7 linked regions of the Homo sapiens genome follow. The protein of the gene in region 2 interacts with the protein of the main gene of each other region in a pairwise test. Each region holds a gene or a part of one and is shown on either strand. Other genes may lie near its edges. The genes, in order: HTR4, GPR37, DRD2, GABBR1, TMEM231, SLC41A3 and CNTN1.

Region 1 (4,011 bases), on a different chromosome or scaffold from region 2:
TCAGCAAACGTAAAAGAAAGAAATTATAACAAACTGTCTCTCAGACCACAGTGCAATCAAACTAGAACTCAGGATTAAGAAACCCACTCAAAACTGCTCAACTGCATGGAAACAGAACAACCTGCTCCTGAATGACTACTGGGTACATAACGAAATGAAGGCAGAAATAAAGATATTCTTTGAAACCAGTGAGAACAAAGACATGACATACCAGAATCTCTGGGACACATTTAAAGCAGTGTGTAGAGGGAAATTTATAGCACTAAATGCCCACAAGAGAAAGCAGGAAAGATCTAAAATTGACACCCTAACATCACAATTAAAAGAACTAGAGCAGCAAGAGCAAACACATTCAAAAGCTAGCAGAAGGCAAGAAATAACTAAGATCAGAGCAGAACTGAAGGAAATAGAGACACAAAAAACCCTTCAAAAAATCAATGAATCCAGGAGCTGGTTTTTTGAAAAGATCAACAAAATTGATAGACCGCTAGCAAGACTAATAAAGAAGAAAAGAGAGAAGAATCAAATAGACGCAATAAAAAATGATTAAGGGGATATCACTACCGATCCCACAGAAATACAAACTACCATCAGAGAATACTATAAACACCTCTACGCAAATAAACTAGAAAACCTACAAGAAATGGATAAATTCCTGGACACATACACCCTCCCAAGACTAAACCAGGAAGAAGTTGAATCCCTGGATAGACCAATAACAGGTTCTGAAATTGAGGCAGTAATTAATAGCCTACCAACCAAAAAAATCCAGGATCAGATGGATTCACAGTCGAATTCTACCAGAGGTACAAGGAGGAGCTGGTACCATTCCAATATCCCTGATGAACACTGATGCAAAAATCCTCAATAAAATACTGGCAAACCAAATCCAGCAGCACATCAAAAAGCTTATCCACCATAATCAAGTGGGCTTCATCCCTGGGATGCAAGGCTGGTTCAACATATGCAAATCAATAAACGTAATCCAGCATATAAACAGAACCAAAGACAAAAACCACATGATTATCTCAATAGATGCAGAAAAGGCCTTTGACAAAATTCAACAGCCCTTCATGGTAAAAACTCTCAATAAGTTAGGTATTGATGGGACATATATCAAAATAATAAGAGCTATTTATGACAAACCCACAGCCAATATCACACTGAATGGGCAAAAACTGGAAGCATTCCCTTTGAAAACTGGCACAAGACAGGAATGCCCTCTCTCACCACTCCTATTCAACATAGTGTTGGAAGTTCTGGCCAGGGCAATCAGGCAGGAGAAAGAAATAAAGGGTATTCAATTAGGAAAAGAGGAAGTCAAATTGTCCCTGTTTGCAGATGACATGACTGTATATTTAGAAAACCCCATCGTCTCAGCCCAAAATCTCCTTAAGCTGATAGGCAACTTCAGCAAAGTCTCAGGATACAAAATCAATGTGCAAAAATCACAAGCATTCTTATACACCAATAACAGACAAACAGAGGGCCAAATCATGAGTGAACTCCCAATCACAATTGCTTCAAAGAGAATAAAATACCTAGGAATCCAACTCACAAGGGATGTGAAGGACCTCTTCAAGGAGAACTACAAACCACTGCTCAACGAAATAAAAGAGGACACAAACAAATGGAAGGACATTCCATGCTCATGGATAGGAAGAATCAATATCGCGAAAATGGCCATACTGCCCAAGGTAATTTATAAATTCAATGCCATCCCCATCAAGCTACCAATGACTTTCTCCAGAGAATTGGAAAAAACTACTTTAAAATTCATATGGAACCAAAAAAGAGCCCGCATTGCCAAGTCAACCCTAAGCCAAAAGAACAAAGCTGGAGGCATCATGCTACCTGACTTCAAACTATACTACAAGGCTACAGTCAGCAAAACAGCATGGTACTGGGACTAAAACAGAGATATAGACTAATGGAATACAACAGAGCCCTCAGAAATAATACCACACATCTACAACCATCTGATCTTTGACAAACCTGACAAAAACAAGAAATGCGGAAAGGATTCCCTATATAATAAATGGTGCTGGGAAAACTGGCTAGCCATAGGTAGAAAGCTGAAACTGGATCCCTTTCTTACACCTTATAAAAAATTAATTCAAGATGGATTAAAGACTTAAATGTCAGACCTAAAACCATAAAAACCCTAGAAGAAAACCTGGGCAATACCATTCGGGACATAGGAATGGGCAAGGACTACATGTCTAAAACACCAAAAACAACGGCAACAGAAGCTAAAATTGACAAATGGGATCTAATTAAACTAAAGAGCTTCTGCACAGCAAAAGAAACTACCATCAGAGTGAACAGGCAACCTACAGAATGGGAGAAAATTTTTGCAATCTACCCATCTGACAAAGGGCTAATATCCAGAATCTACAAAGAACTCAAACAAATTTACAAGAAAAAAACAAACAACCCCATCAACAAGTGGGTGAAGGATATGAACAGACACTTCTCAAAAGAAGACATTTATGCAGCAAACAGGCACATGAAAAAATGCTCATCATCACTGGCCGTCAGAGAAATGCAAATCAAAACCACAATGAGATACCATCTCACACCAGTTAGAATGGCAATCATTAAAAAGTCAGGAAACAACAGGTGCTGGAGAGGATGTGGAGAAATAGGAACACTTTTACACTGTTGGTGGGACTGTAAACTAGTTCAACTATTGTGGAAGACAGTGTGGCGATTCCTCAAGGATCTAGAACTAGAAATACCATTTGACCCAGCCATCCTGTTACTGGGTATATACCCAAAGGACTATAAATCATGCTGCTATAAAGACACATGCACACGTATGTTTATTGCGGCACTATTCACAATAGCAAACACTTGGAACCAACCCAAATGTCCATCAATGATAGACAGGATTAAGAAAATGTGGCACATATGCACCATGGAATACTATGCAGCCATAAAAAAGGATGAGTTCACGTCCTTTGTAGGGACATGGATGAAGCTGGAAACCATCATTCTCAGCAAACTATCGCAAGGAGAAAAAACCAAACGCCGCATATTCTCTCTCATAGGTGGGAATTGAACAATAAGAACATTTGGACACAGGAAGGGGAACATCACACTCTGGGGCCTGTCGTGGGGTGGGGGGAGGGGGGAGGGATAACATTAGGAGATATACCTAATGTAAATGACGAGTTAATGGGTGCAGCACACCAACATGGCACATGTATACATATGTAAGAAACCTGCACGTTGTGGACATGTACCCTAGAACTTAAAGTATAATAAAAAAATAAATAAAATAAAATGGTAATTGTACTCATACCATATAAGTTTCTTCAAAAAAAAAAAAGAAATTTATGGAAGAAAATATGGAGTGTACATCCATATGCCATCTCTAAATTGTCTCTTTGCTTTACAATGATCCTGCAGATTACCAGACGCAGCAGGATTTTAACAATACATCTTATTTAGTAAAATAGGCTTTCTTGGGCTGCCCTGGAAACTCCCAAACTCTCTATGAAAAAAACCATCAACTGCTAAACAACTGACTTAGCAAATGTATTACCAGAGCATACGCTGTTTGTAAGTTGTCAACAGCCTGTACTTAGGCAACTGCTAGATTAAATAGCTAAAAACTATTTGGCACCCACACAGAAGTTCTTGTACACACACTTTATGGTTGAATTCTTTCTATGACACTCCTGAAGGCATAATAATTAAGAGAGAATGTCGGTTTCTAGGAGTATCCTTTGGGGTCTTTCCACCAGCTGAAACCACAACACCATGCTAGGCTTTAGCTACAAATCTGCCTACACTTGTAGCAAAAAATGGAATTCATGCTCTGAGCAGCCTCTGAGGCACAGGATTTATATTTTATAGCAATTCTTATTTTTCTTTTCTTCTTTTCTTACACATGCAAATGAAAATATCCCCCAATTTTCAGCCGCCAGAACAGCTGAATACTAATCATCATCAGAAAAATTAAATGCTTGTTTCAAAGAAGGAACTACTCCTTAGAAATTCCTG
Region 2 (4,011 bases):
TATTTTAAAAGCCGTTTAAGACTATTTAAAAATCAACATATTCTCCCAAAACTTGTCTTGATTCCATAAATCCTCTTTTCCTTTATAGTCCTATCTTGAATTAAGGTTTGTTACCAATTATGATGTCTATAGCACAGTACATTCCTTATATGGTTAAAAAAATTCATTTAACTACAACCTAACATGTTATAATTCCTATCAATCTGTCAGGTGTTTATTAAAATAAAAATGTAAATGAAGCAAGATTAGCAACATTTTGTCTTAAGATATAAACCATCTATGTTAGATTCTAAAGATTCCATGTTTATTCTCAGTAATTACAAAATCATTTCAAAATGTAATATTTCCCCCAAGCCCACAGTCCAGTTCTCAATCTTTGGTATTATTATGATGTTCCTAGTCAATCTTAAAGTGACCTGGAATTTCAGTTCCTTACCTTGGGGTTCTGATGAGTTTCCAAAAAGCAGTAACACATTTTTACCTATTTCCCTTTCTGACTAATGATATTGATTTGCATGACTGTGAACTCAAACTAAAAACAAAATTATGTATAGTTAGGTCATCATGATTTTAATAAAATTGAGAAACCATATTTTAGGACAGAATTTATCTGCTTTTAACCAAAATTTCACTATTGGTAGTCTGTTAAGGAAATTTCTTTCTTGATTCAATCTTCTTATAAAAGGCAGTTATTTCTAAATTGCATATCTTGATGCGAATTGGCTTATCAGATGCTTTTCCGATATAAAAAGGATTTGAATTAGGAAGACAATAGTAAAGATAGGCCCTGAAGATGGGAATTGATGAGGAAGGGGCTATTTTGACAGAAAAAAAGAAAAAAGTAACATCCCTGAATAGAGTCACAGACCTAATAAGAATGTCTCATTCTAGGCAGGGATCAAATCAATGACCTTGGCCTCATTAATGAATGCTATGAACTATTCAAGTGTACAGACAGATAACACTGAAAACTATTACAAATTCACAAATGGAAAGTATTCTGTCTCAAGAACAAGACTGACACAGTGATCATATCCTGCGTTTTATGGAAGTTTATGAAAAGTACCTACACTTACTCTGCAAATAAAAAAAGACCCTCCATATTTGACGTTGCAGTAATCCCATTCTCAACTCCACTCTGAAATTTTGGATGAGATCATCTCTTCTGGCACAAAGAGTATTATTCCAATTAGGATATTTAAGAGTTAGTCTTGGCAACAAGGTTGAGTTCATTATTGGACCTTGGCAGGTCAATTCATGGGAAGTGAAATGACAGGCGCATCCCTGGAGGATGGAGCAGAAGTGCAGAGGCAGAGACAAACTGCACTGCATAGCTGCCTTCCCATCCCTCTCCCACAATCTACATCCCAGACACAGGTCCATGTGCTTCCAATGGGATACTGTTAAAAGGTTGCCGCACATAAGACGAATGCCATTAAAGGTGTAAAAATTGTATCAAGGTCCATGCAGCCTAAATATGAAAGCAAAGGTAGACCCTCACCCACTCAGCCTTCGGTAAACTTATAAGCTCATATCTGTTTTACTTCTGCAGACACATTTGCCTCCTTGTCTCTGTGGAAGGATACTTTGCTGACATGGCAGGATACCTTGGGAGCCCTCAGGAGCTCAGAATAAATCTTCACTCTGATTATGTGCTTGAGAGATTAATCCAATTCTTGAGAAAGTCCATTCATCGTGCTCCCCTTTCCTCGACTCCACAATGGAGTCTAAAGTATCGCCCTTGTCCATCTTCTTTCTTAGGTTCTCCAAGGTCAAGTTAAACAATTTGTATATGTTTTGATTTTTTCAGAAGAAAAGGACTCAATTTAATATACTGTTATTACATTGCCAAATAAGCCATTCATTTAAATAAAATGTTTAATTTTGACGTATTTAGTGTCCTTATAGCTAATAAGGACTAATTGTAAAGCAGAGATAGATATCCTAGGCACTGGCACAAATTCCATATTTTAAAAGAAATTTCTAGAACTGAACTATTTGCTGAATTATTTTGCCAATTATTATTATGGACTTTCTATCCTGGGAAAGCTAAAGGAAACAAAAAAGCAAGAATTAAAAGATTTTCACATTTGTAACTTTTCATCATGGATCTAGGCTGTATAGGCATTTATGAAATTTATGAAGATTAATAGTAAGAATGTAACTGAAAAGAATTAGAGGGAGCACAGTTTTCCCTTTAATTTCTCCATCTCTGGTCATAACAAGCACAACTGTGACTTGACCCATTTCAGTGCCATTTCTGAGCTTCCACGATGCTTTGTTCAAACCTCTATTATAATATTCATCATGGTGTAGAACATTACTTTACTTTTCTGTAATTTTAATGGCAGTGGCTCATCTATGATATTCATCTTTGGAAACTTTTCCCCCTCTTCCTGTATTGCCTTCTCCTGCCCACTCCTAATAGTACCTCGCATAGAAGAAAAGCCAGGTAAACATTTGATAAATCAATGAATGGTGAACAAATGAACGAATGATGACACCTATGGAAAAGGATTACAGAAAATAATAAATTATTCAAATTGTTCTTTAATCAGTTATTGGGTGCTGCTGTTTTATATATAATCCTTAAAAGCTGAATGCCAGACAATATCTATAGAAGGGAAGTTAAAAAATCAATTTTCCTATTTATACTTCATTGACAAGCTTTAGAAAAGGACACATTCTCATTATGATCAATGGAAAAGGAAACTATTTGGATTTCTTATTTGAATATTATAAAACTTTTCTTTCTTGTGGAAGATCCAAATTCAGTTAACTTCACCATACACCATTCAGAAATGGAGTTATAAATAAAAGTGCACTCTAAGAAACACTTTTCTTCCTGTTAGAGTCATCAGCTAAATATTTTCATTTGCATGGGAATATATAAAATGATTACTAAAAGATTAATGGGAAGTCATAAAATATTTGTTCAGCACCATTCTCATATATTGAGCACATTTTCCCTAAGAATACTATTAGTAACTTTAAAATTGCTCATAAAACAGTAAGTTTCCACTTAAAAGTCCGGCAGAATACCTAATGACTAATCCACCTCTCAAAGAAAATTTACCATATGCCATGATAAATGTTCTATTACTTGAATACAGGCGTTCTAGGGAAATCTGTGTAGACTCAGATAGTTGTATGGCACTGTCATCTTCAACCTCCAAAAACCCTTTCTTTCTTGTCAGTGCTAGCTACAATCTAAGGCAATGAAAGAGCCATTTGTTCCACTCAACTTAAAACCAGTATTGCTAAAGTCATTGGAGAAGCTGGTTCCTCTCATTAGAAAAGATTCTAGACTTGTCACAAATTATTCCCAGACCAGAGGCCATGGTAAGACATGTTCCCTTTATTCTCTCTCCACCTCTGTGCAGGAGTTTTATCCCAGTAAAATAAAAATACAGTTAGATCTGGGGTTATCTCATTATAATTATTTGAAGCCTTCTGTTCTACAACACTCCATGAAGGTGTGGGTTCTTTAAACTAAAGAGAATCTCGATCATTCAAAACCTCCAATTAATGTCCAAACAGACCTTAATCTGTTATCTGGGATCTCGGTCAGATGATACCTTGATTCTGACTTCCATTAAATAATGAGCAAAGATTCATTCCAGTTGCCATATTTGATGTCTGAATTATTTGAATTTTTTTTTTTTTTTTTTGAGACAGGGTCCCACTCTGTCACCTAGGCTGGAATGCAGTGGCATGATCATGGATCACTGCAGCTTCAACCTCCAAGGCTCCAGAAATCCTCCTACCCCAGCCTCCTGAATGGTTGGGACTACAGGCATGCACCACCACATCCCGTTAATTTTTGTATTTTTTGTAAAGATGGAGTTTCGCCCTGTTGGCCAGGCTGATCTTGAACTCCTGGGCTTAAGCAATCTGCCTGCATAGGCCTCCCAAAGTGCTGAGATTACAGGGGTGTGCCACCACACCTGGCCCAAATTATTTGGTTTTAAACACTTGTTAGATTCCTAAGTGAATGGTAGGTATGGTAGA
Region 3 (4,011 bases), on a different chromosome or scaffold from region 2:
GTTTCTCATACACACATGCACACAGGCACACACACACACACACACACACACATGAACGCACCGCCCTCCCCCCTCCCCACGTAACACCCATTCACACACAGGCACACACTCATGGCAGATTACGCAGGCACACACTCACGGCAGCTGTCCCTAGCGCTCTGGAAGCTTGGAGCAGCCCCAGTTCCCTGAGGATGGAGTCAGGACAGGGAGATGCACCTTTGGCTTCTACCAATAGGAGCAGAGAGGAGCGTGAAAGCCCCCTCCCGCAACCCGGAGTAGGGCAGACTTCGTGTCACCGTGTAGCTTGGCAGCAGGGCTAATTATAACCTTGCTCATTCTGATCACTGCCCTCTCTTCTGCTCCTAGGCATCCAACCAAATGCTGGCATTTAAGCTCAATGATGGGCAATGCAGCTGCTGTCATCCTGTGTGGCAGAAACAGCAGCTTGCCCCAGAACACAGCAAGCCTCTCATGCGGCACTGTCTTCCTGGGAGCTCACATGGGGGCCCCGTACCAGGGCCTCTCTCCCAGCTCCCTGTGCTGCTGCGCTGACCAGTTTGGCAGGAGCTAACAGCTGGATGCCCATTTTGCGGGTGGAGGCAGGAGGGTACGTAAAGGGCTTTCCTGGCATAAACAGAGTGTGCCTTTAGGGTACCACTGGGCAGAAAACCAGCACTACCTGATTTACATCCCACTTTGAAGCCCCTCCTGGGACCAGTACTTGGGAGCCACTGGGGATCTAGGTTGAGATATCAGGGCCTTCCTCCCTGTCTTCCTCCTCTCCTTCCCTCCTTTCTGCCATCCCTTCTTTCCTACAAACACTTATTGAGCAAATTACTGTGTTCCAGCCTCTATCCTAGGCTCCTGGACACAGTTGTGAGCAATTCAGACACAGTCCTGCCTTCATGGACATCTTAAATCTCTCCTTGCACTGGCCTATCTGGAGCCCAGAATAACAAAGAGATTTCCTCTGTGGTCCCAGGGGAAGCTGCCTTGGAGAGTAGTTAGGGCTGCTAACTTAAAGACTCAAGAAAATGCATTGGTGGCCACTGTCCATAAGACATCTACTGTGGGCATTGCACTTTATCTCATGTATCGTTCTTAAAACTTTTACAAGAAGGGCTTGCTTATCCCACTCATAGGTGAGGGAACTGAAGCCCAGAGAGGCCATGTAACGTGGCCAAGTTCACCTGGCAGGTGTGCAGCAGAGCTGGAATCTGAAACATCACATCCCATGCTCTCTACTAAGCTGCCCTGGAAGGGACCATCTAGCTTATCAAGAGAGGAGATAATTAGGTGACAAGTACTTGGTAAGCATGAAATGTGAAAAGGAAAGATGATTATTTCAAGGGTGGACAAAACTAGGGAGGGTCAGAGAAGAAAACAGAACAAGATCACTTGGTGATTTAGTAGCAGAGGAAGGAGTGGCCCCAGGTTCCCTAGTCGAACCCAAGGCTCTTTTCTTCACACCCCCAGGCATCCAGGCATCATTCCTTAATGCTCTTGCTCACATAAAGCTGAGACCTGCAGTACAGGCCCTGAGCTGGCTCAGCTAAGTCCTAATAACTGTAATAATACTAAGGACTTACCATGTGTCAGGCACTGTTCCAAACACTTGATGCTTATATCTTAGAATGCAGACAGTAAGCCTCAGAGGCAAATGACATAACCACCTCTCCTCCATACCTCCAGCCAGCTACTCCCTCTCCCTGCTGGGTGGCTTTCTTGAGAATGCAAGTGTCTCCCTCCCTCTCCTGCATAATTTTTCCGAAAGCATCATTTCTCCCTGAAAGTCTTCCCTGACACCCTCATGCTGGGCCTTATGCCCCACACCTCCTATGGGGACTGCTCCACTGTCACCGGCAGCAGACTGCACTGTAGGGGCCCTGTCAACCTCTGCATCCCCAGCAGGTCAGTGCCTTAGCCCATTGCACAAGGATTGGGGTAAGACCTCGGAGTGCTCAGTCAGTGCTGACTGAGTGAATGAATAACTCTGAGATATTTGTTCATCTTCTCAATCTCCTCATCTAGAAAATAAATGCACACAGGAAGCCGCTCCTTAAAGGGTTGTGAGGCTGACATGGAATGGCACATGTGGACATCAGGAACTCTTCCAATAGCATCTAGATGGAAAGGAATGGAGCTGGGAATTGAACCTGGTCCTCTCACTCCAAAACCAGCGTGCTTTTCATACACTTAGCAAGATAAATAACGCACACTTAGTCCTAAGCCAGACAGATGTTGGCATGGCATTGCTGGAAATGGAACAGGAGGAAAAAATCTGGATGACAAGAGCATGTATTAGAGAGGGGACAGTGCGTGGTTGTGAGGGTGCGCTGATAGGACATCAGGGCAGGGTGAGACGTCACCTGGGACGTTCTCTAGGGACAACAAATCGCTGAGATAATGTCCATTAAACAAGGCTCAGTGCCCAGCTCTAGTTTGATGAGATGCTGTGGGGAAGTCTGAGCCCTGCCCTCTGAGAATGGCTTCTGCACCCTCCTCCCCTGACACACTCAGCTTCACCTTTAAAATAAGGTGAACAAGCATGTTTAAAGGATCTGTTCGAAAGACTTACAGATTCCTGGGAACCCCCTATAGCCCATGTATGGATTTGTCCCTACCCAAGTGCCTGGGTAGGGACAGGGGGTCTGGAAGCTAACAGAAGCCATGCCCAGAGCCCTGGGTAGAACACACGTTCCTCTGGGAAGAGGGTACCTACTTGCCTGGGGCGAACATAGGGAGTACTCTCTCCTTCCTCTTTATCCCAAGGGGGCGGTGAATAGGAAAGACAGAGTCCTCCCTATGTGGAGCAGTGCTGGATGTCTATTGTCATCTTCATCTTTATCATCATCGCCATGGCTGACATTTACACAGTGCTCACTGTGAGCCATGTATCATTCTAATCACTTTTCATACATCAACTAATTCGATCCTCAACAATGCTATGATGTATGATACTATTATTATCTGCATTTTCCAGATGAGGAAACTGAGGCACAGAGAGTTTGTTTGCTCTACCATTTTTCCCTATGGTCTGAGACCTAGGACCCTCCTTTGGAAGAGGGAAGAAGGAGGGGATCAAGCGTAAGAATTAAGAAGGCATGGACAGAGTCTAGGGGCCCTCATAAACATGGATCCAGGGGGAATTGGACTCCTGGCCTGTGTCAACTGAATATTTTTATGTGGTTTTGTATTTGTGTTTCCTTTTGGTTCTTCCTTAATATCCAGTCAGGTCATTTTGGAAGTTGCAGCCTGCATTGGCTGTAGTAAAGGAAGCCAAGGGGTGATGGATCAGAGCTCCCTTGGGCCCGGGGTGGTGGTGAGAACAGTAAGCGCACGAGCCCCTTGGGGGCCCAGGGACAGGGAGGTGTGCCACTTTCCACCAGTCTCGCCTCCTCACCTGAGCGTCCTCATCTAGATTTCTCCCCTGTTTAAACCTACAAAGCTTTCTCATTTTCTTTCAACAACCCCTTCCCTCTCAGGCAGGGATGGCCTCAGAGGCACTGGTCAATTCCTCTCCTGCTCAGGGAAGGAAGGTAACGGTTCAGTGGGCAGAGCACCGGCACTTTCCTAAATGCCTGATCCCATGCCTTCCCATGCACCTAGACTCCCAGATTGCTTGAGTCCTGGACATGCCATCCTAGAAAGCTGGGCAGAGAAAGGGGCAGGATCCAGCTTGTGCCCACCGATGATCCCTAAATGCTCCCACATCTGCTCGCTGGCTCTGAAGGTGTCTTCCTGGAGAATAATATCTGCTTTGGGATTTCTCCATCAGCATTTCTCCCTGTGACCTGGGTGAAGAAAGGCAACTTCTCCAAAGCTTCTATTTCCTATTTTGTTTTTGTTTTAATTTAATTTTATTTTTTTTTTGAGACAGAGTCTTGCTCTGTCGCCCAGGCTGGAGTGCAATGGTATGATCTCAGCTCACTGCAACCTCTGCCTCCCAGATTCAAGCAATTCTCCTGCCTCAGCCTCCCAAGTATCTGGGATTACAGGCATATGCCACCA
Region 4 (4,702 bases), on a different chromosome or scaffold from region 2:
CCGTGGTTCTGTGAATAGGTGGAAGCATCTGCTTACTCCATCAGGACTTCTAGGGTAGTCGGGCCTTGGCACTCACACATTAAAATACTGTTTATGTTATTTTATTGCAAGTTACTTTTCTTTCATTTCCCCTTTACGTTACAGAAAGGGAAGCATTTTGCTTTCTGTTTAAAGTTGTGTATGTAGGTAGGTTATATCATCTATGACTTTCTCTCCCTCCTTCCCTTTCTTTTTGTTTGAGATGGAGTCTTGCTCTGTCACCCAGGCTGGAGTGCAGTGGTGCGATCTTGGCTCACTGCAACCTCTGCCTCCCGGGTTCAAGCGATTCTGGTGTCTCAGCTGGGATTACAGGCGCACACCATCACACCACGCTAATTTTTCTATTTTTAGTAGAGATGGGGTTTCGCCATGCTGGCCAGGCCAGGCTGGTCTCAAACTCCTGAGCTCAAGTGATCAGTCCGCCTCGGCCTCCCAAAGTTCTGGGATTTCAGGCGTGAGCCTCATCTATGAATCTCAATTTAGGACAGTAAAAGTGTCATTACAAAATATTTATTGTAAAAAAGGGTTGGAGGTTGAGAATCTCAATTCTAGTCAGTCTCTCAGTGTTTGGTTTCTTCCTACCATTTTTCCCCCTAGGACCAGCCAGAAAGCAGCTTTTTTTTTGTCCCCCCCAACAAGGAGCCCACTGTTTCCTCTCCCAGCCCAAACTCAGGCCTACGAACAACAACAGCACAACACACACACACACACACACACACACACACACACACACACACACACACACCCCTCCACTTCAAGGTATAGCCAAGAGCTTCTGGAGCCGTCAAAAAGGTCTGTACCTGCTGTCTTTAGAGCTTCCAGTTTGCCCTTGGTCAAGAAATACTGTTTGCTAGGCTCTGCTGGAGTACATCAGGTAATACTGGCTTCTAAACCACCCTGAGGTTCTTTTCTCTTGTCCTTTTACTCCCTTCGTACTTCAATTTCTCTCCTTGATGTCCCCCTCCCTGTTTTGTTTTTTGCCTCCAATCCGTTCTGCGCGTTCCCTGCAGAGCAGGCGAGTAGCAATGCTGCTGGACCATGGAGCTGCTCTAGTCTCCCAGAAATCTCTTCTACACCCAACCCTTCTTGCGCTTAGGTGGTCCTCAGTCCCCCTCCCCCACCTCCTTCTGACCCAGGCTTCTTTCTCGCCCTCCGGTCGCAGTTCTCCTGGGCATCTGCCTCTGCCTCTCTCCTCTCACCCGGATCTAGGGCTGCCTTCTCTTTGTGCAGCCGTCTTTCTCCACCTTCATCCCAGACTCCCTGTCTCAGCGCCAGCTCCTCTGCCTTTGGCTCGGGTTCCCTCTCCCCCACCCCAGCTTCCAGTTGTTTGGCCCGCAGGTCCCTCGGCAGTGACCGGCGCCCCCCGACGAGTGCGTGTGCACCAGGGCACCTCCCTCTCCCCCACCTCTCAGCCCCGCGCCTCTCCACCGCCCGCCCCACCGCGCTGTGGGCGGTCCAGGGCGGGGCTGGGATCCGGGGCGGCTCCCGGGGCTCGGGTTGTGGGAGGCGCCCTCTCCCCGGTCTTCCCCTCTCTTCCCCCCGCCCTGCCTTCCCTTGCACCCTCCTTCTTCCCTCCGCCCGGGAGCTCTCCCTGGTCCCCGGCGCCGCCTCCTTCCCTCCCGGCTCCCCGCTCCCCGCTCCCGTGGCTGCCGCCGCCCCGGGGAAGAAGAGACAGGGGTGGGGTTTGGGGGAAGCGAGAGAGGAGGGGAGAGACCCTGGCCAGGCTGGAGCCTGGATTCGAGGGGAGGAGGGACGGGAGGAGGAGAAAGGTGGAGGAGAAGGGAGGGGGGAGCGGGGAGGAGCGGCCGGGCCTGGGGCCTTGAGGCCCGGGGAGAGCCGGGGAGCCGGGCCCGCGCGCCGAGGTAAGAGCCAGGGCCCCGGGTTAGCAGGGCTCGGAGAGGGGGCGCGCGGCGTGGTGGGGGAGGGGGCAGTGGGCGCAGGGCCCAGCTGGGGGAAGCGGGGCTGGGGGAGAGGAGGAACCGCGGGGATGGAATCGGGGAGCGCTGAGGCGGCCGATGCCGGGAGCGTGGGTAAGCCAGGCTTCTGCGAGCCGCGGGGGCCGGGGGAGAGGAGGTGGTGAGAGGTGGAGTCCCGGGAGGGTTGGGGGCCGAGGGAGGCAGGAGGAGGGTGGGGACAGGCTTTCTCTCCTCCTCTCCCCCCACCCCGCGCGGGGCTCCGCCCCCGCCTCCTCCGCGGGGCGCTCTCTTGGTCCCCAGGCTGAGCCCGGTCGGAGCCTGCGAGGCAACCGGCAAGAGGTCGAGTAGTCTCCGGGTGCGGGCCGCGCCGGCGGGGCTCGGTCCAGTCCTCATGGCCGCCTCTCACTTAGATGTTGCTGCTGCTGCTACTGGCGCCACTCTTCCTCCGCCCCCCGGGCGCGGGCGGGGCGCAGACCCCCAACGCCACCTCAGAAGGTGCATCCTTCTTCGACGACCTCCGGCCCTCCTTCGCTCCACTTCCCTTTCCCTGCATCTCCTCATTTCTGGTCCTCATCACTATCCCATCAGTCCCACATATCATCCCGGTCTGGCAACCCCTTCTGCTCGGCCCGACTTTACTACTGCTGACCTCCTTCTGTCACCCCACGTTACTATCCAGCACCTCTTTTCTCTGCCCACATTGCTACACTATACCACCTTCCTGTGCATTTTCTCCGCCTCAATCCCCTTTCCCAGCCCCACATTACTACCTCAATTACTCCCTTTTCTTGGTCCCACTTTGCTGTCCAGATGATCTTATTAGCCTCCCTTTATCCTCCTATCCTAATTCAACTCGAATATCCTCATTTAGCCTTTTTTTTTAAAGAAAAGCTCCACCCACATATCATACCCTTCATGATTTCTTAATTACTTTTCTTTCTTACCTCCACCCAGCACCCTTCCCTCCCCACTTGTGGGTTCTCTCATCAGCTTTAACCCTGGCCCTTTACTCTCTGTCCTTTAGCCAGGGGATCTGTACCTGTCCCCACTCCCACCCTCTAGTGCCCCATCCCTCTTCCTCTGTCCCCAGCCTGCCCACAGACCACGCCCTACTCTCCCCTTCCTCCCACTGGGGAGCCTGCCTTTTCCTCTTTCCCACCATTCCTCTCTGTATGCCTCCCCGACTCACCCCTTAGGTTGCCAGATCATACACCCGCCCTGGGAAGGGGGCATCAGGTACCGGGGCCTGACTCGGGACCAGGTGAAGGCTATCAACTTCCTGCCAGTGGACTATGAGATTGAGTATGTGTGCCGGGGGGAGCGCGAGGTGGTGGGGCCCAAGGTCCGCAAGTGCCTGGCCAACGGCTCCTGGACAGATATGGACACACCCAGCCGCTGTGGTGAGTAGCCTCGGAAGCCCCTCCCCTCTTCAAGACTATTCCTTTTCCTGCCGCAAACTTAGCATTACTGCTTGCAAGTCAGCACTTTAAATCCAGTATACCAAAATTCACAAATACATTTATTGAATGACTACTACATAAGAGCAATTTTGCTCTGTGCGGTTGGAGGTAGTAGAGCTAGCAGCCTGCACAGTTCATTTCATCCTCCCTTCATTAGGCCACTGATCATTGGCCTATAACATTGATAATTCATCTTGTCAGTTATTCTCTTTGAGGATCATTAGTGGCAGATGATGACAAAAAAATTCTAAAATGATTTCATCACATTTTTGAATACCTCTGTCACCAACCCAGAGACCATATGCCCAAGAAACAAAAGCCAGTTTAATATTAATAGAAGCCAACTATAATAAGAAAAGCAAATCTGATTGTGCATCCAAAGTTATATACATCTACATATTTCAAAGCCAGAGAACCGCCCACTGTAGCTGACTTTGAAGAGATCCCATTTTGTGTGCTTATAGCCCCATCTTGGGTTCCTAAAATGGTAATTTTTTTTTTCTTTTGGGAATGTGTGGATGCTTGCACAGGTAAGGGAGGATTGGAAGATAGGTAGGCAAATCCTTTTCACATGTGATTTTCTTTAGAGCAGGATGCTTGTGGACCCAAACCTGCACCTGAGTCCCCTGCTCTTTAAAGGGAAAGAGCCTTCTTCAACTCGCCTCTCTTCTTATTTTCCTATCTCTCCACAGTCCGAATCTGCTCCAAGTCTTATTTGACCCTGGAAAATGGGAAGGTTTTCCTGACGGGTGGGGACCTCCCAGCTCTGGACGGAGCCCGGGTGGATTTCCGGTGTGACCCCGACTTCCATCTGGTGGGCAGCTCCCGGAGCATCTGTAGTCAGGGCCAGTGGAGCACCCCCAAGCCCCACTGCCAGGGTGAGGGGAACAGCTGCCTGCATGCAGCTGATGAGGACGCTTGTGTGAGGATGGGAGTGGGGTGGGAATGGATAATGGGAAAGAATGGAGAGCTATAAAAATGTGGGGGAGGACACTGGAAAGGGGAGATGAAAGTCCCTTTTTCCTCCATCACCTGCCTCAAACTTCCTCTTGCAGTCCCCGGTATCCTCTGTAGGTTGGGGGCTTCCTTCCTTTACCTTTTAAAAAAATCTTCCTGCTCCCGATTCTTAGACCTCACGTTTTCTCTTTTCCTTTATGAATCTCACCTCTCTCACCTTCTTCAGGTTTAAATACTCCAATTTTCCCTTTCTCTAAACTTAGAAATTTCCATGCATCACCCTCTTCTAGAATTCATCCCTCACCATTCCTTATATAATTGATTTATTGT
Region 5 (4,011 bases), on a different chromosome or scaffold from region 2:
AATGAAACAGCCCCTCTGACTTCAGCCTGCCATCCAGGGGCACAGACAGAGGGAAAAATAGGGCAAAGAGCCCAGTCACAGTACGGCAAAGATCCAGGGCTGCTCAGCTGAGCTGATGACAGATGACTGACTGTTGGGCTGGGGCAGGTGGACGGTCCAAGTGTCCTTCAGCGGCCCTCCCTGATTGCCTGTGCTAATGCGGCCCTTGCCCTTGGGCCCTGCCCCTCCAGGTCTCCAGTTAAAGGCCTCAGCTCTGGAAATCAAAGCTGTGAATGGGAAATGGAGAAGCCCAGGGGTGCAAAGTGCTAGTGATTGGCATGTTTGTCACAAGAGAGCCCTGAAAAGAGTAAGAGTGGCTCACAACAGAAGGTAGAAATGCACAGTGTGTTCCTCAGTTCAACAGAGGAAAAGTCTCTGCTTGACCAGAGATGGGACTCTTTCCAAGATGTCTGAACTGACTGCAATTTTCTCCTGAAATTCAACGCTAAGGCAAAGAAGGAAAACCCAAAAAGCTAATTATAGCCTCCAGGAACTCTCAGACCTTTCCACAAACTAGTCCCTGACAATTCTGCAGGAGCTCTGAAGATACGGAACTGTGTAGAGCAAAACCGGAAAGAACCGTTGTCTCTGAGGGAAAAGCACACAAGCCCGCAGGTGTCCGCTGGGCTCTTTCAAAAGGTCCTAAGATGTTCCCAGAAGATGACAATGAGGCAGCCACGGTCCTGCTGAGTCTTCAGAAATGGCCTTTCTAGGATAAGTGCTCCTTACACAAGTCTCCCCGGGGCGTCACTGTCACAGGAATGGTGGTCACCACCTGATTCTGAAACACGAAGATCTTGATTCTTTCAAACACCCAGAGGAAGATAAGCAGGATGCTGACATACTGCACCCAGGCGAACTTTACCATCTCCCAGAATCCTGGCTGATAAGTATGGACAGTTAAGGAGTGAAGGGCCACATGGTGTTAAGTATGAAGAGAAAATCCAAGATGGAATTGGCTGTGGCAGAGGTATCTCGAAAGGAGGCAGGACCTCTGTCATGTACACACCCAGATGGAAGCTGACCTGAACTTGGCCAAATGGTAAAACCAGCCACATTTGATTTGAGCTATTTATATACCAAGCCTGATGACCAACCTCCTAAACAGACAACTATGCCAAACTAGATTGATCATGGACTAGAGATATCCTGAGCTGTTAACCAGCCATCCATCCATCTTCTAAAATCTTCCAGTTGTGTAAACTTGGAACACCCTTAGCCCCTGCCTAATTGCACCTGTACGGAACACAATTTAGCTGCTTCCTAGGTTTGTGTCTCTGGAATTGTAATTCCTAAGACCCCAGTTAAAATGCCTTCTCTTTTGTTTGCTTCTCTGCAGTGTTGGTGTTGGTTTCATTTTCCATTAGTCGACCTAAGTCAAAATTAAACCAAAGTTTAGGTCAGACAGGGACTGGCAAGAATGTTTCACATAACCTTAGCATAAAAGGGATATCATATGATTATTAAGACATAAATATGGATGATTCTTACCTAGAAGAATTGCTTGGAAACAAATAGGACCAAGACATGAATTATTTGTTCCTATATGAATAGCAGACATACAGTCATTTTCTGAGACATGTAGCCTAAGATGTCAAAGACGCAGCCATTTTTATGAGGCTATAACCCTGTCATGATTTCCAAGAGAAAACCTCCCACGTCTGTTACTACTTGAGACAACTAAGGAATCATTCCTCTTTGAAAACTGAGCTACCATTGATTTTTTTTAAATTGTTGTTTGCTTTAAGAGGCAGGGTCTCACTCTGTCACCGAGGCTGGAGTACAGTGGCACAATCATCGCTCACTGCAAGCTTGAATTCCTGGACTCAAGCAATCCTCCTGCCTCGGCATCCCAAGTAACTGGGACTACACATGTACGCCACTATGCCTGGCTAATTTTTTTTTTTTTTTTTTTGGTAGAGACAGGGACTCACTATCTTGGCCAGGCTGGTTGTGAACTCCTGGGTTCAAATGATCCTCCCACCTTGGCCTCCCAAAGTGCTGAAATTATAGGCAGGAGCCACCACATCCAGCCTTAACATGGACTCTTTAACAGAAAGGATATGAAATGACTTCCACAGGGTATCGGATGATAGCATTAATCACAAATGGAGCATCTGCGGCCCTGCCCACCAGCCAGATGGGGTTGGGATCATTCAGGACGGTGGTAACTGCAATGCAATCATTAACCATTAACCACGATGGCTGTTTGACTCTGGCAGTTGAAGGCTATAAAGATTATTTGATACCTGGAAATTATCCTGTGCTTCAGAACTGAAAGAAATCATTCGGAAGGAAAGAGAAATTGCATGTGCAAAGCTGATCACACATTATTTGTTAAAATAATAGTCAAAATACTTTTGTTAAAATACATAAAAAACTTGGAAAGAGTTTCTTCTACATGTGCTGAATGGCTAACTGAAGGAATACTATACTGCCACTAAAAGTAGTATCACAGCTTTGTAGCTGTGTGGGGAAGTATTTATATTCCAAGTTTAAATAAATAAAAGTAACTTGGATCCCAATGTGTTTCTACACTACAATGGCTGTATAAAAAGATCTGCAGAAGGCTAAAGAATGAAAGGAATGAAAAAATAGTTGATTTGTAGGGCAATGTTTTCTACTTTTGTTTTAAAATTCCCTCTATTATTGCAATAATGCCACTAGTATATGCCATAAAATCAGTAAGCAATACTGGATTTGCAGTCATCCCCCTTGTGAGACGTCTGTGTATAGTCTCCATGATGTCTGCTTGCCAAGTAACACTGTAGATGCTTTTAGAGAAAACCTCAGCCACCGACCAGACAAACGTGCCGAGTCCACACATGCCATGGCCTAGAGCTCTGTAAGGAATAAGCACACTGTGCCTTCTGGCAGGAAACAGGGGCACTCCTGTTCTCCTGCTGGACTGCTAATGTGGGGAGAGTCACCCACGTTCTCTGTTTTTCTCTGAAAAGCATGAACAGCAATTTGTCTTTGGCATCTGTTATAGGTGTGGATAGGTGTGGTATGGGGAACAACTCAATTAGGCTTATATTTTTTAAAAGAGAAACCCACTAAGCCAGTGGTGGGATAATGATGGCATTTAACCATCACTAGCCTGCTGGACCATGGGATGCTGGAGGGGTGGGGGCGGTCCCAGGTCTGAAGATCAGGACGAAAAAGACAAATCCTGGACAGCATATTTGCTCCCATCGTTGAGCATTCACGGGTTTTGACATTTTCATCACAAGGGTTCCAGTTCTGCTTGTCTCTGTTGCCCCCACTAACCTTGAAAGTCCTGAGCAGCGGCTGAATGGGCTCTACCTGTGACTCACCGTTCCTCTCCTGGTAGGCAGCAACAATATGGGTGAGGTCGTAGTCATAGGCAAAGGGGCTGGTCCCGTTGATCACGGATATCTGGGACACGGGAGGAGGATGTGGTGTGAGCACCTGGGAGACTCCTCCCCTTTTCCTTCTACCCTTCTGCCCACCCAGGCTGGTCCCACAGAGCACCCTCTTGTTCTTGGTGGCCTACTGCAGTATCAATAATCTTTTCTTCAAAGATGAATAAAACAGGCTGCTGCCCACCCAGGCTGGTCCCACAGAGCACCCTCTTGTTCTTGGTGGCCTACTGCAGTATCAATAATCTTCTCTTCAAAGATGAATAAACTCTCTTGCAACAATTTAAGCCCATTTACTCTCAGTCTTTCTTTCTGTGGATGGAAATAAGGGGTCAGTGTCCATGTTTTACAGGTTTTAAAGCTATTTTTAAAATACCCCTCTTTATCTCAGCGGGAGAAAGAATTCCTTAAATTATTTTAACAGACCGTATTTTCGCCAGGTGTGGTGGCTCATGCCTACAATCCCAGTGACTTGGGAGGCTGAGGCAGGAGGACCACTTGAGGCCATGAGTTCAAGGCCGTAGTCAATGATGATCATGCCACTCACTACACTCCAGTTTAGGAAACAGAGAAAGACTTCATCTCTCAA
Region 6 (4,011 bases), on a different chromosome or scaffold from region 2:
ACCCCTGCCATTTCTCACTGTCTAGCTGCATAATTCATGCAGATTGTTTGGCCACTGAAGGCATCCGAGTTGGTGACTCATCCCAAAAAATCACTCCAACGTAATAAGCCCTCTGTTGCTGTTCTCATGCACAATGTGAAGGCACTTTGGCACTGTTGGGGTGAGGACACGCTGGGTGGCCCACTGACATGCAAGGAATAAAGACATGGTCCCCTAAGGGAGCAAGGGAGGAGGGACACTGTGGACACGCAGGGGCTGCCTAGGAGCCTCTGAAGGCTGTTTCTTCAGTCCCTGCAGGCCAGGGCCTGGGGGCTAAACTGGACAAAACATGTTTTGTTCTTCTCCTAACTGATCACTTCCATTTACAGAAACTTATCAGACACCAGACACCAAGCTAAGCTTTGGTTAAAAGAGGGGTCATCCACACAAACCCCACAGGGTGTAGGCCTAGGAGGTAAGTATGTGCAGAGAGCCAGGTGTCAGACAACAGGGAAGGGGGAGATCAAGGCAGCTGGGAAGCACAGTCCTGGATCTGTCTCAGGCACTGCTGCAGTGCCCAGGGTAGAGACCCGGTATTTGTTACAGTCTTAATTTTTAAGAAGAAGAAATCCAGATTTTTAAGTGTAAATATCTGAGTTCTGATGTCAGCAATGAATCCAAAAAAGGAAAAAGAAAAGCCACAAGAGCCAGCGCCCCGGTTCTGAAGGCCATGCTCAATTGGCAGGTGCCATCGAGGCCGGAGTTTGACTCAGTGCCTGCAAAGCCTGGAATTCGGTCCTGTCAGGAGAGCTTATGTCCCAGGGCTGCCTGTGAGGAGCCGGGTCTGAGCTGCTGCGAACAGTGTGTGGGGCTTCCTCCCCAGGCTTCTTCCATCTGAGAAGACCTGCTCCAGCATCCCTGTAAGGCAGCAGTCTGTCCACGGCTCAGCTGCCCAACTGCCTGTGCGGGGCTGGTGCTGCCCCTCTGAGGTCTGCTGTTCCGGTCCAACCCAATCCTGTGGGCCTACCCAACCCAGGGACCACATGGGAACCCTTCAAATACGTACCACATATGACGGGGGTAAATATCGCCATGCCTTTGTACTGCTGTTTAGAAACGGTTTTGCTCAAGATGAGTCCTCCGAAACTGGGGAAATAGCAGACAGCAGTCAAGTTATCAGAGTTTACACTTACAGTGGCCCTGCAACTCTCCACACAAATCACCCTTTCAGCCCAGCTTCCCATCCTTGGCTGTCACTCTCCTCTCCCCTACACAAAATATCTGCTGCGGCCAAACTGGTCTCCCCAGCATCCTTTGCACCCTGCTCATGCTTTTCCATCTCCACTTTGAGCCTCAACCATTGCAGAAGGCCATCCGAGAACACCCACTTATTGCAAAACTAACAAATGCCTTTTCAAAAGCACACAGCTGGCTGGGCTGTCCCAAGACTCCGGCACCACGACTGAGATGCTCTTTAGCAGAAAACAGAACCTGCAGGAGGATCACCTCATGCCCACCCCATGTTCTCAGAAAATGCTGCAGCCAGACCTTGCTCCCACTGGCCACTGTAGTTTAGCAAAAGCTTTCCCACCCCTTGGGACTTCTTAGAGCCCTGGAGAAGCTAGGTCAATCTGTATAAGGAGCCCAGGAGCCTCCTGGAAGCAAGGATACCTACTCTATCGCCTCTTCTCCCCAAGACTCAAAGTTAGAAAAACTCATCAGAATGGACAGGGGTGGCCCCCATCAAGGTCAACTCTCAGGAAATGAGCCTTGAGAGGGAGCTGGAGGGTGGTGGACCTGGGCTCAGCTGAAGGTTCTAAGGCTCTGGAAGGGCGCTAACCCCACAGCTGTCTAGGTCCCACCAGTAGCCATGTGTGGCCAGTGACCAGGAGGACGAGTGAGTCAGCAGATGTGGCCTTGAGGCCAAGGTGGGGGACCTGCCACCTAAGCAGGGATCTGGGCCAGCAAAGCTCTAGTGGCAATGGCCTGAAAGCCGCTGTCTCCCTTGGGGCTCCAGTGCACTCCAGTGCCGGCCCCAGCTTTGGCTCTTCCTGGGTCCCTGGTGCTCTGGCAAATGTAAACAGGGCAGCCTCTCTTAGAACCAACAAGGCCCAGGGTTCTCAGTGAAAGGGAGAGAAGAAAGGAAAAAAGGTATGATTCAATCAGCAATGGGAGTTACTGAAAGAGCCCACAGCTACATTTCACTCCATTCCTGTCCCCCAAGGCAGTGAGTGTCACCCTGGTTCTAGGGGCCTTCATGGCTGAGAGGAGGAAGAGGGGCCGTGGCCCTGGCTCCTGCTCACCTGCTGATGACCATGGCCAGGATGATTGGGAACCAGCCAAACTTCAGGATCTTCACGATGGGTGGGCTCTGCTTGGCAATGAGGACCCACACTGGGGTCAGAGCCGCAAAGCTGAGGCAGACCAGCGGCGTCAGATACCGACTATCTGAAAGGAGAACAGGGACACACGCAGCTCATGTGGCCAAGGCCAGCACACACAGGCTGGGCCTGGGTTTCACAAATGAGAGGTGGGTGAGGACGCTCCTGTCCTCATCAGTTGAGGGGGAACTGCCTTGCCATACTTTTCACAGAACTTTCACCATCCCAAGAAGTAACTGGAAAAGCTCCTCTCTGTCCTCCATTCCTGCCACATTCAACTCCACTTCTCTGGCAAACTTGCTATTTTCCCCATATAAAGTACCCTGTTCTGCCTCCTCCCACCCTGATGCTACTGTCATAAATAAATAGAAGTACAATGTATGGAATGCACCATGAGCCAGCACTATGCTCAGTACTTCGGGTGCACAATCTCATCTCACCTTCTCGACAGCCCCTGCTTAGACAGGCAGCAGGAGGAAGCAGACGTGCAAAAAAGGGTGGCTGCCTAGACAGCAAGCAGCCCCGTCAGGGCTATGGCCTGGGTCCATGGAACGCCAGGGCCGGCTATGGGATGCCACCCATGGTCCTGGCTGAGGCCAGTCCCAGGCAACCAAGGGTCACCAGCCGGGTAGCTACTCGTGTCCCCATCTCATCTTCTCCACTGGCGAGAGGCCAGTGAAGACTGGGCAGGTGCTGGATCAGTCACTGCTGCGGGGGCCCAGGACAAGCCTGACACACTCGGGCATCTCGTGCATTCATTCCTCCCTTTCTGTGTTGTGCTCCGTGTGAGGGTCCCCCACAAGTGACAGAACAAGACACTGGCTTTCTCTAGAGTGGTCGTCTCACCCTCAGCCCCACCCTCTGGAGGGCAGGCTCACCTGCCAAGGGGGCCCAACACTCAGGGGTACCCAGGCATGGGTCTGTGTCCCATGTACTCCCTCTCTGGGGGTGTTATCAGGAACATCCGCTCCTTCCTTCTCTGCACTAAAGGGTTATGGCCCATTCCTCTGCCTCAGGTGCCCCAGACTGGCTACAGACAAGGTACTTTATGGTAGGAGGGCGTGGCCTCTGCAGGAGATATAAGCCAGGCCCAGCCACCTCTAACCAGGTCTCCCACCCTCTGGGAAACAGCGGCCTGCAGAAGCATCACCTTATACGATGCTTTTGAATCCAGTCTGAGTTTTCAGTTAGCTACTCACAAGCACCCCCAGGGCCTGCCTCATGCTTTCCCCAGCACACCTCCCCAATATGCAATGCCAATTCCCAACTACACCCAGCAGGTATTACAGTCAGCTGCTCACACCTCAGCGGGTCAAGATTTATCTAATACAGGCCAGTCCCAGTGACTCCTGAGTGCAACAGAGAGAAGGTCACAGTCTCACTGGAGAGACAGATGCCCCAACAGTGATTTTGTGTCTAAATCATAAGTCATGTGGAAATGAGCACACGGTACAGCCTGGGGCAGAGGCAAAGGTTCATGTGATGCCTGAACTCTCACTTATTTTGCAAATCCAACTCAAATAACCCATATACAAATCTTCTTGTTTTAAGTTTAGTTTAGCTTAAAAGTAAAGTTAGGTCATCTTATTCTTTCTTACAGATCTCCCTTGCCACTTAAGTAAACTTGGCGAATCTCCCTGGTGATTAAACA
Region 7 (4,011 bases), on a different chromosome or scaffold from region 2:
CATATTCTCAATTTATATCAATGTCTTACAACTTCAAGTTCTAGTTTAGATAGCATGAATATATTTTTGCAGAAGGTCACTTTAACTTTACCAAGCTTTAGACACATCAAAATATGGATGATAATTCCCATGTTACTTTATTGGGTTACTGTGAAGAAAATAATGTATTTTCTACATCTGAGTAATAACAGTCTTTCAAATGACAAAAGTGATCCTTGTCCTCCCTTGTTTAAGACTTTAAACAGATTTATATTACTCTTAGATGAAGCCCAAGCCCCTTAGCATAGAAAACTTTGTCATTTATGATGTGGCTTACTATGTCTCATCTCTTAAAAGTCTCCTCCATTTTCCTCTAAAGACAAATCACACTGATTTCAGTTTCTGCAATTTCTTACACATTCTAAACTCCTCACCATAGGGCCTTTGTACATGCTGCCCTCACATTCACATACACCCTCACATACACCCTCACATACACCCTCAAGCCAACCCACACATCCCATCCCTCCCATTTCCCATCCTGGCTTTCTCCTCGTCATAATTTTTGCACTCAATATTACTTCTTCTAGGATACATATAAACTATTCAGTGTGGCTTTTATACAAATAATCTATATAAGTTGTACACTGCTTTTTCATTTTGTCCCCAAACCACCAAAACATTGGTAGATGGTCCATTTATAAGGAAGATGATGATAACATCTTGTTCATTTTGAGATAGGAAGAGATTATTTGCACTTTGAAATCACCTTTTTATTTTTCTACAAAAATATTTAATAGGCTAACTGCACAAAATTCAGTTGAATATGAATGGATATAGATGCCAGATGCCTATACTGGGGAAAAATATGTTAGAGAGATCCTACTTTATTTCCCATTGTTTATTAGCTGTGTGACATTGGGCAATTTATAACAACAAGACAACAAAAAAACACCTCTGAGCTTCAATTTTCTAAATTCCTTATACATTATAGAGTCCTGTTAATTAAACCTTCATTATAATAGATACTGACAGGGATAGGTATTTCTGTCCATCTTAGAACTACAGGATCTTCTGTGAAAAAAAAAATTCAGAGCAAAAAACATTTTCATTATTAACATATAAACAAGTCTTCTATAAAATAAACTTTTTCAAACAGATTTTGCAATTGGATTTCTAGTTTCAGCACTGACCTGCTGCTATTGACAAGCCACTCTGTCCCTTTACTCCATGAAAACTTTGGTTTCGGTGCAGCTTTAGGTTTGCATTCAATTATCACCCTTCCACCTTTAGCAGCCAGGATCTTTTTCTTCATAGGATTCATTTCAAAAGTTGGAGCCAACGCTAAAAAGAAAACAAATTGTTATCTTTCTCTTTCTGTTTGTAAAGCCTAAACATTGCTTCTGTGTTGTAGAATCTTTTATTCTCCTTAATAGTTAATGGAAAGGATTAATCTCGGTAAATATGATCAGCTGTCACCAATAGGCATTCTATACCTAATGCTTTGTAACTTTTATTTAATAACTTTGACTTATAAAATTCACCCAATTCAAATGTACAATTCTTGATGATAACTGAATTGATTATTAGAAACTTTAATTAGAATCCAGGCATGGGTGGCTCACACCTATAATCCCAGCAGTTTCAGAGGCTGAGGTGGGCAGATGGCTTACCCAGGAGTTTGAGAGCAGACTGGGTAACACGGCAAAACTCCATCTCTACCTAAAATACAAAAAAATTAGCTGGGCATGTTGGTGCATGCCTGTAGTCCCAGCTATCCAGGAGGCTGAGGTGGAGGATCACCTGAACCTAGAAGGTCAAGGCTGCAGTGAAGCGTGATCGCCTCACTGCACTCCAGGCTGGGCAACACCGTGAGACCCTGTCTCAATAAATAAATAACTTCAATTTCAATCAAATGTTTTATACACATTTACCTTAAAATTAACTCTGAATTCTGTTGCTTTGACTCAATTCCACAAGGAAAGTAAAGTGAAAGGCTGGAAAAAATTGACCAGCATTATACACACTGACATATGGTCCTAGTCAATCCTCTAAACCACATGTTGAATGAACTATTCCCAGTTTATAAATGAGAAAATTGAAATCTATTAGGATTATTTAATTTGGCAAAGGTACCACAGGTAGTAATAAGTGGGAGTCACATTTGAATCTAGGTCCTTCTGTTTCCAAAGCATGTACTTTTCATTAAACAATGCAGTCTCTCCTTCTTTATACAATTACTGAGCATCATCTGTATGCAAACACCCTGCAAAATGCCAAAATAATTGGAGTCCTGCTTTCAGGATCTATCTATAAACAGCTATGGGAATAATGGATCTAATCAACTAATTAAGGAGACATGATCATTTGTAGTTCATCATTACCTCCAAGTACAGAGCAATAATTATTAGAACAGAATACAGAGGCTTAAAAAAGGTTACTTCATTGATGTCATGCTCAGACTTTCCTCAGCATCCACACATTTAATCCACTGCTCACTCTCCTCTTCCCTTGGCAGACTCCAAGCAGATTTCATCCATATATTTCAACACATTACAATCATCCGTAACTATGTACTTTCTGGAGGCTTTTCTAGGCCTAAGCATATCTTCATCTGGGTTTTGACTCTTCATCCTCTGGTCTGGTCATTCTCAAAATTATCTTTGTATTAAAATCATCTGGGTATCTTTTTAAAGTGTCCATTCAGTAGGTCTGGGGTGAGCCTGGGATTCTGCACTTCTAATGTGCTCCTAGGTATGGCCACTGCTGCTGATGCTCTGAAGAAGACTTTTGTTGTGGCAAAGATTCATTCTATTCCATTGTTTCGTTAGTCTGAATTATGATAATTAGCAATAAATAAATCAGTAAACAACCAACATATGTTGTACACCTAACACAATACTGGGTATTTTGTGTAGGCTCAATAAACATTTTGTGTGATATGACATATTGCTTTAACAATGTTTAACAGAAATTAGAAATGATACTGACCCAAGATCTTCAACTCAGCATTTGCATAAATGGCTCCATATGTGTTTTCAGCTATGCACTGATACATTCCGGCATTTTCAAAAGTCACATCATACAGTCTTAATTCCCCTTTATGATACTGAAAAGAATAAAATTGAAACATATTCTCAATGAACTTTAATAGAAATACTTTCACTTAGGTCTGGGTTTGGTTGTCTTTTCATTTAGATACATTATGTTCATCTGCCCCCACTGTTACCTAAGATGAACTGAGTGGGATTTTCATGGCATGGGAAAGGAAAACCCACTTACCATGCCCAAAGGCTCTTGTTCTATTCATCCTACAGAGCTGAGAGTCCACCTTTTCCCCTCTTGGACCAGCTGGGAGATTACAGTGGGAAGGTAGAGAAGAATCCCACTGCTGCTACTTGTCCCCAGGGCCAAAGGTAGGACTTAGAGCTTCACTCTTACCTCTGTCTCTGTGGGGTACAGGAAAATAGTGGCAAGAAAAAGAGGACAATATCAGGTATTGGAGATGGATGAGTAGGAAGAGGGTGGAAAAGTGGAACAAAGGAAAAAAATAAGGAGAGAGAGAGAGAGAAGGTAGAGTAAGATTACAGAAAGTTGTTTAAACTGAAAGAAGATACTTTATGTTCAGTTTTTGTCTTTTTTAGGAAGCTTTTATATTTCAGGGCCCAAGTGCCCTTTCTGTATTGTCTCTCCTGCTAAATTTATCCCAGGACTACCCTGAAACACTGCTTGAACAGGGACTCAGGAACAGCAAAGCACTTGAACATACATACCGCATATCCATTTTTCAACCATCGGATTGTAGGGATGGGCTTTCCTGTGGCCACACAAGGCCAGTAGAGATCACTGCCTATGTCCACCTCTGTGTCATTGATGTGTTCTACCCACTCAGGGAATGCTAAAAAGTAAGGAACATTGTAAATGTTAAATGAAGGGCTCAAGATCCATCATAATCTCCAGAGTATAAATATTACATTTAGTTAACCTAATTCTGCAGAATACATCAGATAGTGTATGCATCCTGAACTCAGT

What was found.
Region 1: the proteins of GPR37 (region 2) and HTR4 interact in a two-hybrid assay, tested with the Homo sapiens proteins (one large-scale study listed by BioGRID and IntAct).
Region 3: the proteins of GPR37 (region 2) and DRD2 interact in a two-hybrid assay, tested with the Homo sapiens proteins (one large-scale study listed by BioGRID and IntAct).
Region 4: the proteins of GPR37 (region 2) and GABBR1 interact in a two-hybrid assay, tested with the Homo sapiens proteins (one large-scale study listed by BioGRID and IntAct).
Region 5: the proteins of GPR37 (region 2) and TMEM231 interact in a two-hybrid assay, tested with the Homo sapiens proteins (one large-scale study listed by BioGRID and IntAct).
Region 6: the proteins of GPR37 (region 2) and SLC41A3 interact in a two-hybrid assay, tested with the Homo sapiens proteins (one large-scale study listed by BioGRID and IntAct).
Region 7: the proteins of GPR37 (region 2) and CNTN1 interact in a two-hybrid assay, tested with the Homo sapiens proteins (one large-scale study listed by BioGRID and IntAct).

The regions. Positions count from the first base shown.
Region 1 is NC_000005.10:148,504,256-148,508,266, forward strand, and holds part of HTR4 (5-hydroxytryptamine receptor 4), read right to left. Parts: intron 1-4,011. UniProt on the Homo sapiens protein: G-protein coupled receptor for 5-hydroxytryptamine (serotonin), a biogenic hormone that functions as a neurotransmitter, a hormone and a mitogen.
Region 2 is NC_000007.14:124,755,414-124,759,424, forward strand, and holds part of GPR37 (prosaposin receptor GPR37 precursor), read right to left. Parts: intron 1-4,011.
Region 3 is NC_000011.10:113,419,421-113,423,431, forward strand, and holds part of DRD2 (D(2) dopamine receptor), read right to left. Parts: intron 1-4,011. UniProt on the Homo sapiens protein: Dopamine receptor whose activity is mediated by G proteins which inhibit adenylyl cyclase. Positively regulates postnatal regression of retinal hyaloid vessels via suppression of VEGFR2/KDR activity, downstream of OPN5.
Region 4 is NC_000006.12:29,630,049-29,634,750, reverse strand, and holds the start of GABBR1 (gamma-aminobutyric acid type B receptor subunit 1 isoform a precursor), read left to right. Parts: upstream 1-1,567; 5' UTR 1,568-1,901; intron 1,902-1,968; exon of another isoform or gene 1,969-2,054; coding exon of another isoform or gene 2,055-2,069; intron 2,070-2,365; coding exon 2,366-2,450; intron 2,451-3,149; exon of another isoform or gene 3,150-3,151; coding exon 3,152-3,355; intron 3,356-3,361; exon of another isoform or gene 3,362-4,107; coding exon 4,108-4,293; intron 4,294-4,702.
Region 5 is NC_000016.10:75,539,246-75,543,256, forward strand, and holds part of TMEM231 (transmembrane protein 231), read right to left. Parts: intron 3,439-4,011; coding exon 3,357-3,438; intron 2,211-3,356; coding exon 2,105-2,210; intron 930-2,104; coding exon 749-929; 3' UTR 1-748. UniProt on the Homo sapiens protein: Transmembrane component of the tectonic-like complex, a complex localized at the transition zone of primary cilia and acting as a barrier that prevents diffusion of transmembrane proteins between the cilia and plasma membranes.
Region 6 is NC_000003.12:126,014,449-126,018,459, forward strand, and holds part of SLC41A3 (solute carrier family 41 member 3), read right to left. Parts: intron 2,428-4,011; coding exon 2,283-2,427; intron 1,126-2,282; coding exon 1,046-1,125; intron 1-1,045. UniProt on the Homo sapiens protein: Na(+)/Mg(2+) ion exchanger that acts as a predominant Mg(2+) efflux system at the mitochondrial inner membrane.
Region 7 is NC_000012.12:40,936,647-40,940,657, reverse strand, and holds part of CNTN1 (contactin-1 isoform 1 precursor), read right to left. Parts: intron 3,878-4,011; coding exon 3,753-3,877; intron 3,089-3,752; coding exon 2,971-3,088; intron 1,324-2,970; coding exon 1,173-1,323; intron 1-1,172. UniProt on the Homo sapiens protein: Contactins mediate cell surface interactions during nervous system development.